4 linked regions of the Homo sapiens genome follow. The protein of the gene in region 1 purifies or fractionates together with the protein of each later gene. This does not show direct contact. Each region holds a gene or a part of one and is shown in the gene's direction. Other genes may lie near its edges.

Evidence for each region.
Region 2: the proteins of FAM234A (region 1) and THADA purify together in Homo sapiens (affinity purification with mass spectrometry; one large-scale study listed by BioGRID and IntAct). This does not show direct contact.
Region 3: the proteins of FAM234A (region 1) and TUBGCP3 purify together in Homo sapiens (affinity purification with mass spectrometry; one large-scale study listed by BioGRID and IntAct). This does not show direct contact.
Region 4: the proteins of FAM234A (region 1) and DNAAF5 purify together in Homo sapiens (affinity purification with mass spectrometry; one large-scale study listed by BioGRID and IntAct). This does not show direct contact.

The regions. Positions count from the first base shown.
Region 1 is NC_000016.10:251,821-255,320, forward strand, and holds part of FAM234A (protein FAM234A), read left to right. Parts: intron 1-2,012; exon of another isoform or gene 2,013-2,109; intron 2,110-2,508; exon of another isoform or gene 2,509-2,560; 5' UTR 2,561-2,593; coding exon 2,594-2,861; intron 2,862-3,500.
Region 2 is NC_000002.12:43,230,351-43,233,194, reverse strand, and holds the end of THADA (tRNA (32-2'-O)-methyltransferase regulator THADA), read left to right. Parts: intron 1-312; coding exon 313-482; intron 483-1,851; coding exon 1,852-2,247; 3' UTR 2,248-2,344; downstream 2,345-2,844. UniProt on the Homo sapiens protein: Together with methyltransferase FTSJ1, methylates the 2'-O-ribose of nucleotides at position 32 of the anticodon loop of substrate tRNAs.
Region 3 is NC_000013.11:112,484,511-112,487,153, reverse strand, and holds the end of TUBGCP3 (gamma-tubulin complex component 3), read left to right. Parts: intron 1-1,002; coding exon 1,003-1,161; 3' UTR 1,162-2,143; downstream 2,144-2,643. UniProt on the Homo sapiens protein: Component of the gamma-tubulin ring complex (gTuRC) which mediates microtubule nucleation.
Region 4 is NC_000007.14:754,199-757,698, forward strand, and holds part of DNAAF5 (dynein axonemal assembly factor 5), read left to right. Parts: intron 1-390; coding exon 391-623; intron 624-2,583; coding exon 2,584-2,796; intron 2,797-3,500. UniProt on the Homo sapiens protein: Cytoplasmic protein involved in the delivery of the dynein machinery to the motile cilium.

The DNA.
Region 1 (3,500 bases):
GTGAAACCCCATCTCTACTAAAAATACAAAAAATTAGCCAGGCATGGTGGCGGACGCCCATAGTCCCAGCTATTCGGGAGGCTGAGGCAGGAGAATGGTGTGAACGGGGGAGGCAGAGCTTACAGTGAGCCAAGATCATGCCACTGCACTCTAGCCTGGGCGACAGAATGAGACTCCGTCTCAAAAAAAAAAAAAAAAAAAGAGATGGGTCTCTCTGTTGCCCAGGCTAGAGTGCGGTGGCATGATCAGAGCTCACTGCAGCCTCGAGCAATCCTCAAGGGATCCTCCTGCTTTGGCCTCCCAAAGTACTGGCATTACAGGCATGAGCCACCGTGCTGGCCATGTCTCTGTTTTTCTGTTTTTTGTTTTTTTTTTTTTTTTGAGACAGAGTCTCACTGTCGCCCAGGCTGGAGTGCAGTGGCGCGATCTTGGCTCACTACAACCTCTGCCTCCCAGGTTCAAGCCATTCTCCTGCCTCAGCCTCCCGAGTAGCTGGGACTACAGGCGCCCGCCACCATGCCCAGCTAATTTTTGTATTTTTAGTAGAGATGCGGTTTTCACCATGTTGTCCAGGATGGTCTCAATCTCTTGACCTTGTGATCTGCCTGCCTCGGCCTCTCAAAAGTGCTGGGATTACAGCCGTGAGCCACCGTGCCCGGCCGGAAAGTCTGTTTTTAATTCTTGTGGGTGTACACCTAGGACTGGACTTGCTGGAGAGTATGGTAGTTCTGTGTTTAACTTTTTGAGGATCTGCCAGACTGTGTTTCACAGCAGCGGCATCATTTTACAGTCCCACCAGCAACGTACGATGTTCTGATTTCTCCACATCCTCACCCAGACTCGTCGTTTTTCCCTTTTAAAATTAAAGCCATTCTAGTGTCATACACAGGTTATTAAGTGAGTTACTTTTATTATATAATTAGGCAAAGACAAAGTCCGAGTGAACAGTTTAAAACAAAAGCCAGCAGTCCCTTATCTCTCTGTCTTCCTGACCCTTCCCCAGAGGGTGCGGCTTTCAGCTCAGCTTTTCCTCGCCTTCCCTCGCTGACCTCCGCACGCCCTCTTTCATCTTTCACCCCTCCCTTTGCTGTGAACTGTTGACTTCCTTTTTGGGTAGGTGAAGGTTTTACCTCAAATCTGCATGATCACGTCCAGTCTCTCAGTATGATGTGTTAGGACATCGGTTTGGTTGTTTAAAAGGAACCAAAATAACAAAAATCTTGCCTGAGACAAAATGGAAGTTTGTTTTTTTCTCGTTTTATACAGTCGAAGCAGCTCAGGCTGGGTGGTGGTGGTTGGCAGATATCAGGGGCCCTGTGCCTTTCCCATGTTCAAATGTGTTTTCCGTTTTGGTTTCTAAGACGGCGACTGCCGGTTTCCCCACCGCATCCACCCCCGGTCCGGCCAGCAGGAACCAGGGGAAGGAGAGGGCATGTTTTTCCCCTCAGAATTGGGGCTCAGAAGTTACTCCCAGCACCGAGCTCACTCAACACAGCTGTCCCCTGTCCTCCCCTGCGGACTTCTGTTTGAATATATTTTATTTTATTTTTTTCTAGTTAGTCTGTGCTTATCCATGAACATATTTTATTAATAATAATTAGGTAGTGTTTGAATGTTTACTGTGTATCATATGATCTTATAAGTACTTTATATGCATTTAATTTTTTTTTTTGAGACGGAGTGTCACTCTGTCGCCCAGGCTGGAGTGCACTGGCGTGATCTCGGCTCACTGCAAGCTCCGCCTCCCGGGTTCACGCCATTCTCCAGCCTCAGCCTCCCAAGTAGCTGGGACTACAGGTGCCCGCCACCGTGCCCTGCTAATTTTTTGTATTTTTAGTAGAGATGGGGTTTCACCGAGTTAGCCAGGATGGTCTTGATCTCCTGACCTCGTGATCCGCACGCCTCGGCCTGCCAAAGTACTGGGATTACAGGTGTGAGCCACCACGCCCGGCTACATTTAATTATTTAATCCTTAGAACAGGCTTCTAAAGTAGATATTGTTTGTTTTACAGATAAGGAAACTGAGGCACAGTTCAGTCAAAGCACATGTCCTGGTCACACAGCTAGGGAGGTGCAAGCCTGCCCGCCCAGAGCCCATCTTCACTCCGGGTACTTTGAATTTTGGGTCTGTGGCCCTCCAGGGAGTCCATGTGTGCGCACCTGGGTCACCTTTTCCATCTGTGCTTGAGGCTGGTGGAAGGTGGCTCAGATATGCTCAGAGGCTGAGTAGGTGGGGCTTAGTTAACACTGCCCTGGAGCTCATTGAGCATTTCCTGGGTTCGGCAGGCAGGAAGCACCAGCGTGTTCTGGATGAAAATAGTTCCTGCCTGCTGGCTCTCCACAGCTAACTCGCCTTTCCACACTAATTAGAGACCTTCTTAAGTATAATCTGTTAAGACTGACACCCTAAACATTTATTTAGCTTTTATTTCCTGGGCTGGTGGCCCATAGTTAGAGCTGCAGCCAGTCCCCAAGAAGCCGACGCCAGCAGACCCCTCTGTGCTGCAGCTTTGTGCCGTGGGACTGCTGGCCTCGCCGACCTCTTGCTTTATCGACACAGTGACCAGGAGTTAAACTTTGGGATGTGCCCGTGATGTTGGACCACAAGGACTTAGAGGCCGAAATCCACCCCTTGAAAAATGAAGAAAGAAAATCGCAGGAAAATCTGGGAAATCCATCAAAAAATGAGGATAACGTGAAAAGCGCGCCTCCACAGTCCCGGCTCTCCCGGTGCCGAGCGGCGGCGTTTTTTCTTTCATTGTTTCTCTGCCTTTTTGTGGTGTTCGTCGTCTCATTCGTCATCCCGTGTCCAGACCGGCCGGCGTCACAGCGAATGTGGAGGATAGACTACAGTGCCGCTGGTGAGCCTCGGCTTCCCCGCCCAGTGGGGTCCAAAGCAGCTCTTCCCAGGGGATGGGGCGGAGGGGGCAGAACTGTGTCTGCGAGTCTAGAAGTGGCCTTTAAACAGTGAATCAATCCCAAGAGGCTGCCAGTTCTATGTCCAAGGTTTTCCCGGAGTTTTAGGGAGCGATAGACCAGCCTTTTTATTTTTGAGATGGAGTTTCGCTCTTGTTGCCCAGGCTGGAGTGCACTGGCACAATCTCAGCTCACCGCTACTTCTGCCTCCGGAGTTCAAGCGATTCTCCCGCCTCAGCCTCCCAAATAGCTGGGATTACAGGCGTGCAGCACCACGCCCAGCTAATATTTGTATTTTTAGTAGAGACCGGGTTTCACCATGTTGGTCAGGGTGGTCTCGAACTCCTGAGCTCGTGATCCGCCCGCCTCAGCCTCCCAAAGTGCTGAGATTACAGGCGTGAGCCACAGCGCCTGGCCCTAATTTTGTATTTTTGGTAAAGATGGGGTTTTACCATGTTAGCCAGGCTGCTCTTGAACTCCTGATTTTAAGTCATCCTCCTCCCTCGGCCTCCCAACGTGCTGGGATTACAGGTGTAAGTCACCACACCTGGCCCAATTCAGTGATTTGTAGTCAGTTTGTAGAG
Region 2 (2,844 bases), on another chromosome or scaffold:
GATCCTTCTGGTGACACTGGAGGAGCAGAGGGGAGATAACTCTCTAATCCTGCAGATGGAACTGCTTCTGTCCACACTGAGTTAGGGGGCATGGAAACAGTGGGTTCAGGCCTATGACTCATTCTAACAGTATAAATAGCAGGATTCAGAAGGTGATTAATCGTCTCCAGTGAGCCCACCCTACCAGCTTCCCTGCCAGGCTGGTGGCAGCGATTTTACCTGAGGCCTTTATTGTTCCCAGGGTCCTGCAGGCTGCCCTGGGGTCGGCCCTGAGCAGTATATTCATTGCTCACCTTTCTCCTGTCTTTGCAGAGTTTGCCTTCTGCCAGGTGGATGCCTCCATCGCTCTGGCCCTGGCCCTGGCCGTCCTGTGTGATCTGCTCCAGCAGTGGGACCAGTTGGCCCCTGGACTGCCCATCCTGCTGGGATGGCTGTTGGGAGAGAGTGATGACCTCGTGGCCTGTGTGGAGAGCATGCATCAGGTGATCCCGGGGTGTCAGGGGAGTAGGAGGCAGGGTTGGAGTGTCCTAAACCCGCTAGATGCAGCACCTACAGCCTCAGCTGGGCTTTTGCATGCTTAGACACAGAGCAGGAACCACTAGGAAAGTCACCCACTGGGTGCTGCCGAGGACACGGGGACACTCTTAGGCTGACTTCTGGGGTGCTGATGGTCAGCCTCCAGCTTAGCCAGGGGAGAGAACTCGGAAAGAAGCCCCTGGCCGGGCACAGCGGCTCATGCTTGTAATCCCAGCACTTTGGGAGGCCAAGGCAGGCGGATCATGAGGTCAGGAGATCGAGACCATCCTGGCTAACACGGTGAAACCCCGTCTCTACTAAAAATACAAAAAATTAGCCGGGCATGGTGGTGGGTGCCTGTAGTCCCAGCTACTCGGGAGGCTGAGGCAGGAGAATGGCGTGAACCTGGGAGGCGGAGGTTGCAGTGAGCCGAGATTGCACCACTGCACTCCAGCCTGGGCAACAGAGCAAGACTCCATCTCAAAAAAAAAAGAAAAGAAAAGAAAAGAAAAAAAGAAGCCCCTGGATGCGGAGAGTTTTATTATGGAGACTGCTTGTTAGTCAGTATTGGAGTTAGCCTGGGGCTTCCCAAAGTTAGGTCTGAGGGTGAAGCATTTTCAGAGAATTAGGATCTTTGCTGGGAACTTCCTGCTTGAAGAAAACTATTATTAGCCCCCTCCAGGGTGGGTGCAGTCACAGATAGGGAAACTGAGGACAAAGACAAGCAGCAAAAGCATCCTGAGAACTGAAATTGATCGCCACCAGCATCTGACTCAGCTGGCCTTCTTGGCATCCCCAGCAGGCCAAGGGTTCAAAACGCATTGTCCCTCTTTATGAGAAATTTGGAGACATGGTAAGTGTCTGACAAAAGGACCTTGAGAATCACAGTGTTATAGAAACAGGACACAGCCTAGTGTCCTGTGTTTGGAGATTCCTTCCTCTCTGGCCTGCTGCAGAGATGACCTTTCCTCCCTCCTCTCCAATTTCCAGCTGCACCTTAAACTCTAGAGCCCACTCCCTTGTTGAAGTCCCCTTTTCAGCATCCATCCCCCAAAGTATCTTGACTTTGAACCACAAACACATCTTTATCCAAGGTCATGTTAAGTCTGGGGAAAAAATTCCTCTCTGGTGGAGAAATACAGTGAGTGAAAATAGAAGGTGACCTTCAAGGCTGCAAGTGGTGTGTGTACATGGATGTTGACAGGCAAGAGTGCACCCTCTGTCAGGTGGGGGAAGGGAAACCCCTCTTGCATCTGGCAGGGTACTGCTTGGTCTGGACTGGGGCTTGTCACCATTCCCTGTAAGACTGACTTTCGGCTTTTTCATCTGATTTAGGTGGAAGAAGACTACCTGTTTGAAAAAGCAGAAGTCAACTTTTGGGCCGAGACCCTGATCTTTGTGAAATACCTCTGCAAGCACCTCTTCTGTCTCCTCTCAAAGTCCGGCTGGCGTCCCCCAAGCCCTGAGATGCTCTGTCACCTTCAAAGGATGGTGTCAGAGCAGTGCCACCTCCTGTCTCAGTTCTTCAGAGAGCTTCCACCAGCTGCTGAGTTTGTGAAGACAGTGGAGTTCACAAGACTACGCATTCAAGAGGAAAGGACTTTGGCTTGCTTGAGGCTGCTGGCCTTTTTGGAAGGAAAGGAAGGGGAAGACACCCTAGTTCTCAGTGTTTGGGACTCTTATGCAGAATCGAGGCAGTTAACTCTTCCAAGAACAGAAGCGGCATGTTGAAGAAAATCTGGGGGATTGGGATGGGGGTATGTGTGGATTTTTCCTCCACTAAATCTGCAGGAAACATGTTGAACATAAATTCAAAAATTTTATCCCATTCATGCCTCCCCTACTTCTGTGAGTCCAGTCGTCTGTCACTCCTTACAGAGAAACTTTTCTTCAGTTCACTCATTCAGGGCAGCCTATTTTATTGCTGCTACTGTAGGAAGTGAGGCGACTCCGTTGCAGATTTACTCTGTCCCCAGGTGCAGGCCACCTGCAGGCCTGAATGAGCCTTTTTCATCCCCCAGGGCCTCTAATGCCCTGCCATAGCCGCCCTGCATTCTCTGTGAAATGACTACAGAGAGTTGGATTTTAGCACATACACATGATCCCTCCCCTCTCCCCTTTTCTGGCTTTATGTAGGGGCTGGATTAGTTGGCAAACAGCCCATTTGGTCAGATTTGTGAATTTTGTTCCATTTTAGCAAAGCAGAAATATGTTCCAAATGTTGGATCCTGGGAGAATTCAGGATCAACTTTGCACAAATAATTTATTTTTATTGTCTGCATGTGTTAAGTCCTGCAGTGACCTACACATTCCATCCTAATTATTCAA
Region 3 (2,643 bases), on another chromosome or scaffold:
AATATAACTTCTTAGGCGTGTTCTTCTTCCCTCACCTAAAAAGGCAGTGATACACACACACACACACACAGACACACACACACACACACACACACACACATACACAGTGTTTGCCTGCTCAGAGGTGAAGTTACTTTATCAACACAGCAGAGCCTGTGCCCAGGCCTGCCTGTGAGCTTCAGCATTCGTGTTTCTGACCAGAAGCTGGGAAGGGGCAGTGACAGCTGGTGAAGACTTGGGCGGGGCTTGGTGAGGACGCAGTGCCTCAGTGAGTTTTCTCTGCAGATGAGGCCTTTCCAGGCCAGCAGTTCTGTGAACAGATCAGCACCCCGTGGCATGCAGCAGGCTCCAGCACTGGGCGGGGATGGGCCTGTACTCAGTATGCAAGTCTTTCAGCCTGAAATAGAAGCAGCCAGTCCTTTCGTCTTATCAGAGTTAGGGGAAACTTCTGTCACATCTTTAAAAACGCCCTCAGTAACAGGATGATGGCGATGCCAGTGCCCATGAAGAGGGCGGCTGCAGCCTCACGTCCAGCAGCTAGACCCAAAGACCCGACTGATGCTCTCAATTTGTTCTCCAGCAAGGGCTCTAGGATGAAATCCTCTTTCATGAGTCATATGAAAGATGAAATATGTGGCACTGAGTTTTGTATTCAAAATAGAATGTTCTAACATCTGTTACTTTGCTGTTTTGCTTATTCTTGTGGAACTTAAGAACAAAGTGAAAAAACCTGTTGGTTAGTTGTTTTCAAATCAAATGTATTCTTCACTAATTTGTCCTTGTAAAAGGGCGCCCATTCCTAATGCAGGTGCACTGGCCGTGTGCACTCCAGGGTCCCAGCAGCTCTTGCTCCCTGGACACCTGCCCTGGTGGGCATTTACTAAGGGCCTGTTGATCTGGAAGGAAAAACAGACCCAACCCAAAGGAGATTAAGGTCCGGGGAATACGTTTGTGGGTTGTTCTTTTCTGAAACAATATTTTACTCCTTTTGCTTCTTTTTAGGGTATCGTGCAGCAGTTTTTGGTGTTACTGACGACCAGCTCTGACGAGAGTCTTCGGTTTCTTAGCTTCAGGCTGGACTTCAACGAGCATTACAAAGCCAGGGAGCCCAGGCTCCGTGTGTCTCTGGGTACCAGGGGGCGGCGCAGCTCCCACACGTGAAGCTCGCGGTCCTCCCAGGGAGCTGCGGGTGATGTTCGTTGCACTGCTAGACACGAAATTCCCATTGACGTCCTGCAGGAACTGCATGCTGCAGGTGTCCTGCCCTTCCGCCCACGAGTGCGCCATGTTTCAGCGGAGCGGCGTGTGGGAGAAGCCACGTCGTGTTTCACATGTCGGAGTCGAATGCATTTGTAAATCCCTAAGTCAAGTAGGCTGGCTGCACTGTTCACATTTGTCTCTAAAAGTCTTCATCGCTAAAAGATACCATAATTTGCTGAGGCTTCTTAAGCTTTCTATGTTATAATTTATATTTGTCACTTTAAAAAATCCATTTCTTTTAGAAAAAATTAGGGTGATAGGATATTCATTAGTTAAGATGGTAACGTCATTGCTATTTTTTTAACATCCTCTTTAGAGGTAATTTTTGTTAACATAACCAAAAATTAAATTGAAACAAAATGTCCCAACTAAGAAAATATATAGAGCATTTTATTTTTTTTTAGTGTTGTAAAATATTAACCTCTGTGAGATCCTTTGTATCTTAATGCATTACCTTTACACATATTTATTCTTATTTTCTCTCCTTTCAGAGTTTACATTTTTATATTTAATTTACTATTTCAGATTTTTAAAATAGTATAGAAAAAAGTAGGAGTGATAGAGAACAAAAATACTCTTATACAGTGCAACCCAAATACCGCGAATGCATCAGCTAAAGCAGCGTGTAAATAGGAGTGACGAGAAAGTTAATGGAGTATTTTATTTTCAAAGTTCCTGATAAGCATTGGAAAGAAATCGACATGGATAATGAAGATTTCCTTTTTCCTTGCCTATTTTTTCATTGTAAATATTTATATACTACTGACCAAGATGTTGGGGTGGGGGGGATTGTTTTTTGTAAAAATGTCATTATCAGGTCACATAAATCTGCCTTTATGTTGCATAAGTGAAAATTTAGAAAATTAAAAGCAATTATCTTTCAGATGCATTCGTTATTTCTTGAGTAGTTTATGAAGGGACAGTTTACTTGCTGGATTTGGGGGTTGAGGGTTGGTAGAATTTGATTTAATATAGTACAGCATATGAATTATTTAATCAGTGAAACCAGGAAAGTAGACTTTGTGTGACTTTTGGTATAGAAGCAAAGGCAATGTCACCGCTCAGGTCTCAGGAGCGGTGCTTTAGTTATCTGAATCCACCTCTGACTCCTTTAGGTGTGGATTACCTTTAAAACTAAAGGGGCTGTCAGGAATCCTGGCCATGCAGAAATGAATTCATGGCAAAGGCCAGAAATTCAATGTAATTTTAGTTTTGAAGTTCATAAAATCAGAAATTTGAAACAGGTTTTTCTACTGCAAGGTTTTTTAGAAATTATTGCATATTGTTTATCTCCACGAGAGGTTTACCAAGGTAATTGACCATGCAGCCAGCTTTTATTTTATTTTATTCAGAGAGTTGTTCCAGGGATTAATCCTCAGTAGA
Region 4 (3,500 bases), on another chromosome or scaffold:
CTGTCACCCAGGCTGGAGTGCTGTGGCGCAATCCTCCCACCTCAGACTCCTGCGTAGCTGGGACCACAGGCATGCACCACGGCACCTGGCTAATCTTCCTGTTTTTTATAGAGATGGGGTCTTTGCCATGTTGCCCAGGCTGGTCTTGACTTCCTGGGCTCTAGTGATCCACCTGCCTTGGCCTCCACAGGGCTAGGACTGCAGCCGTGCACCGCCTCTGTGAATGTTCTGAACGACGGGGCATTTGTCAGCTTTGCGTCCACCCCAAGACTTGTTTTGAAATGGTGAGGTTGAAACTCACAGGTGTCCCTTAAATGTGATGTGCGGTAACTTGAGTTGTTGAGGTTTTGCTTGTGAATTTCTCATTCTTCTTTCCCTTTTTCGTTCCAGAGCGCCGCCCTGTGCTGGGCTGCCGGGAGCTCGTCTTCAGGAACCTCTCCAAGATCCTCCCTGCCCTGTGCCACGACATCACCGACTGGGTGGTGGGGACCCGAGTGAAGTCGGCACAGCTGCTCCCAGTGCTGCTGCTGCATGCCGAGGACCACGCCACGCAGCACCTGGAGGTCGTCCTCCGGACCCTGTTCCAGGCCTGCACCGACGAGGAGGCAGCCGTGGTCCAAAGTGTAAGTGGCCGTATTCCAGTCGTGGTCGCGGAGCTGTAACTCGAGCTTAAGATCCCGCCTCTGTGGTGTGCGGGGCCCGAGGCTGTACTGTAGCCAAGACAGCGTTCCCCTCACCCCCGGGCCGCAGGCCCTCCCCACACCCAGCCCCTGGGAACAACTGATCTCCTTTCTGTGCCCGTAGGTAACAGCGTGTTGAGGGTGAACCCTTCATGCTCATTTTCAAGCACACTCGGGGGTGCAGTGCCAGGTGCATGTTGTGTAGACGTGTTGTGTAGACGTGCCGTGCACCAGACAGACAGGGCCCGGGCTGCTGACACAGGACCGAGATGCCCAGCGTTCAGCATTGACATCTGGACTGTCCTGAGGGCCCTTCCAGGCCTCGCAGGGGCTGTGGGAGCACCCAGACGGGGGATGATGGCACAGCTTCGGGTGTCCTGCGAGTGGTGTCCCTGGTGCAGTCCTCTTTCTCACTCCCTGTCCACACTCGGCTGCTGGTTATCGCCTCGTCACCACTGGGTACGCACGAGGGAGTCCCATGCTCAGGCCTCTCCTCCTCACTAGGCCGGGCCACGCCCTGCGCTGACAGTCACCACCATGAGGACTTCACACCCACCTCACAAGGATGCTTCCTAGTGCTCAGGAGAACAACTAAAGCTTTGACTTGAGATTTCAGTTGAAAATATCCTCATCTTGAACCTTAAATTCCATTGCAAGGTAGCCTGGCCAGCAGCTTTTACTTCTAGTGGTCCAGGTCACTGTTACTAGCCCAGCGTAGTGGCGTGCACCTGTGGTTCCAGCTCCCGGGAGGCTGAGGTGGGAGGATCGCTTGAGCCCGGGAGTTTGAGGCCTCAGTGAGCTATGATTGCGCCACTACTCTCCAGCCTGGGCGACGGAATGAGACGCTGTCTCAGATAAAACAAAAAAATCTAAATCATTGTGACTGATTTAAAGTAAATGTTCCAGGTTCCATGTTATTTACATGTCATGTTTCTGCTTTTCAAAAACTACCGTGAATTTAAAATTGTCTGTAGTTCTCTGTGGAACCTACAGGAGAGCAAGAGACACGGGGGTGAGGCTGAGAGGACGAGAGACGTGTGTGGGATCCGCTGTGGAATCCCACGGTGCAGAGGGGCTGGTGTGTGTGTGATCCACTGTGGAATCCCACAGTGCAGAGGGGCTGGTGTGTGTGATCCGGTGTGAAATCCCACGGTGCAGAGGGGCTGGTGTATGTGTGATCCGCTGTGGAATCCCACGGTGCAGAGGGGCTGGTGTGTGTGTGATCCACTGTGGAATCCCATGGTGCAGAGGGGCTGGTGTGTGTGTGATCCGCTGTGGAATCCCACGGTGCAGAGGGGCTGGTGTGTGTGTGATCCGCTGTGGAATCCCATGGTGCAGAGGGGCTGGTGTGTGGTGTCCACTGTGGAATCCCATGGTGCAGAGGGGCTGGTGTGTGTGTGATCCGCTGTGGAATCCCACAGTGCAGAGGGGCTGGTGTGTGTGTGATCCGCTGTGGAATCCCACGGTGCAGAGGGGCTGGTGTGTGGTGTCCACTGTGGAATCCCACGGTGCAGAGGGGCTGGTGAGTGTGTGATCCACTGTGGGCTTCCACGGTACAGAGGGGCTGGTGTGTATTGATCAGCTTAGTGATGGGAAGGTTGGGTCACTGGTGTCCGATGAGGGGTGTGTGGTGAACCCCACAGCTGGGACACAGCATCCTTTGGGCCAGACTTCACTGCCTGGGAGGCGTGTCCGGCTCGCTGGCCTCAGGGACGTTCTGAGACCACACCCGGACCCTTGTACCTTTCCTGAGGGCTCTGAGCATGTGCCAAGGACTCACTCTGCCTAACACGGGGCTCTGTCTGGTGCACGGCTGTGTCTGGGAGGCCACGGCGCCGAGAGCAGGAGCCCGGCTGAGACCCTCGGGTTTGGCTCTGAGTTTTCTCATGTTTCTTTCTCGCAGTGTACCAGATCCGCAGAGCTCGTCGGGACGTTTGTCAGCCCTGAGGTGTTTCTGAAGCTGATCTTATCGACGCTGAAGAAGACGCCCTCTGCCTCCGGCCTCCTGGTGCTGGCCTCCGCCATGCGGGGTTGCCCCCGAGAAGCCCTCCAGCCGCACCTGGCAGCCATCGCCACAGAGCTGGCACAGGCCCACATCTGCCAGGCATCTGAAAACGTAAGAGCACTTGGGAGATGCGGGAGTGGAGAGGAGGAGCCTCCCCTGCCCGGCCGTCAGCCATCGTAATGACATGTCTGTGGGTTGCCCTGTGCCGCCAGGCTGGGCTGTCGGAAGCACCCAGCGACGTGTCTGTGGGTCCGCCCCGTGCCGCCAGGCCGGGCCATCGGAAACACCTGCAGTAACCGGAGTGCCCTCGCTGATAGCCCTTGTTCCGGGGCCTCGTCCTGGGCTGTGCAGAGCTCCAGCCCCAGCCCCAGCCCCAGCTGCAGGCGGCCGCTCACGTTTACATTCGTTGCTGCCCCTTTCTTGGCCACACACCACAGTTCACGTGTTTGATGACTCAGGAGGCGTCCATGGCCGGGACCCTCTGGCCCATGCTGCTGGGGGTAGATGTGGGGTCCACGTCATCCCACCCCTGAGGAGCGTGGTCGCACGTCCACCATCCCATCCAGTCCCCAGGGTACCTGCACAGATCGCACGTCCTCAGGGGGCACTGACAGCCTGTTCCCCATCAGCCCTGCCTGGCGTTCCGATCTGTGCTTCTCACAGCCCAGCTGAGGATTTGCCAGAGACATTTGTTTAATTTTAAATTGAGCAGCAAATCCTTGAGCTCAGAAGCTGGAACAGCCTGGGTAGTTGGGCTCAATTGTTTGGAATAATCCATAGTTGTATTCCATGGAAGAAGAGGTGATGGCTTTGCT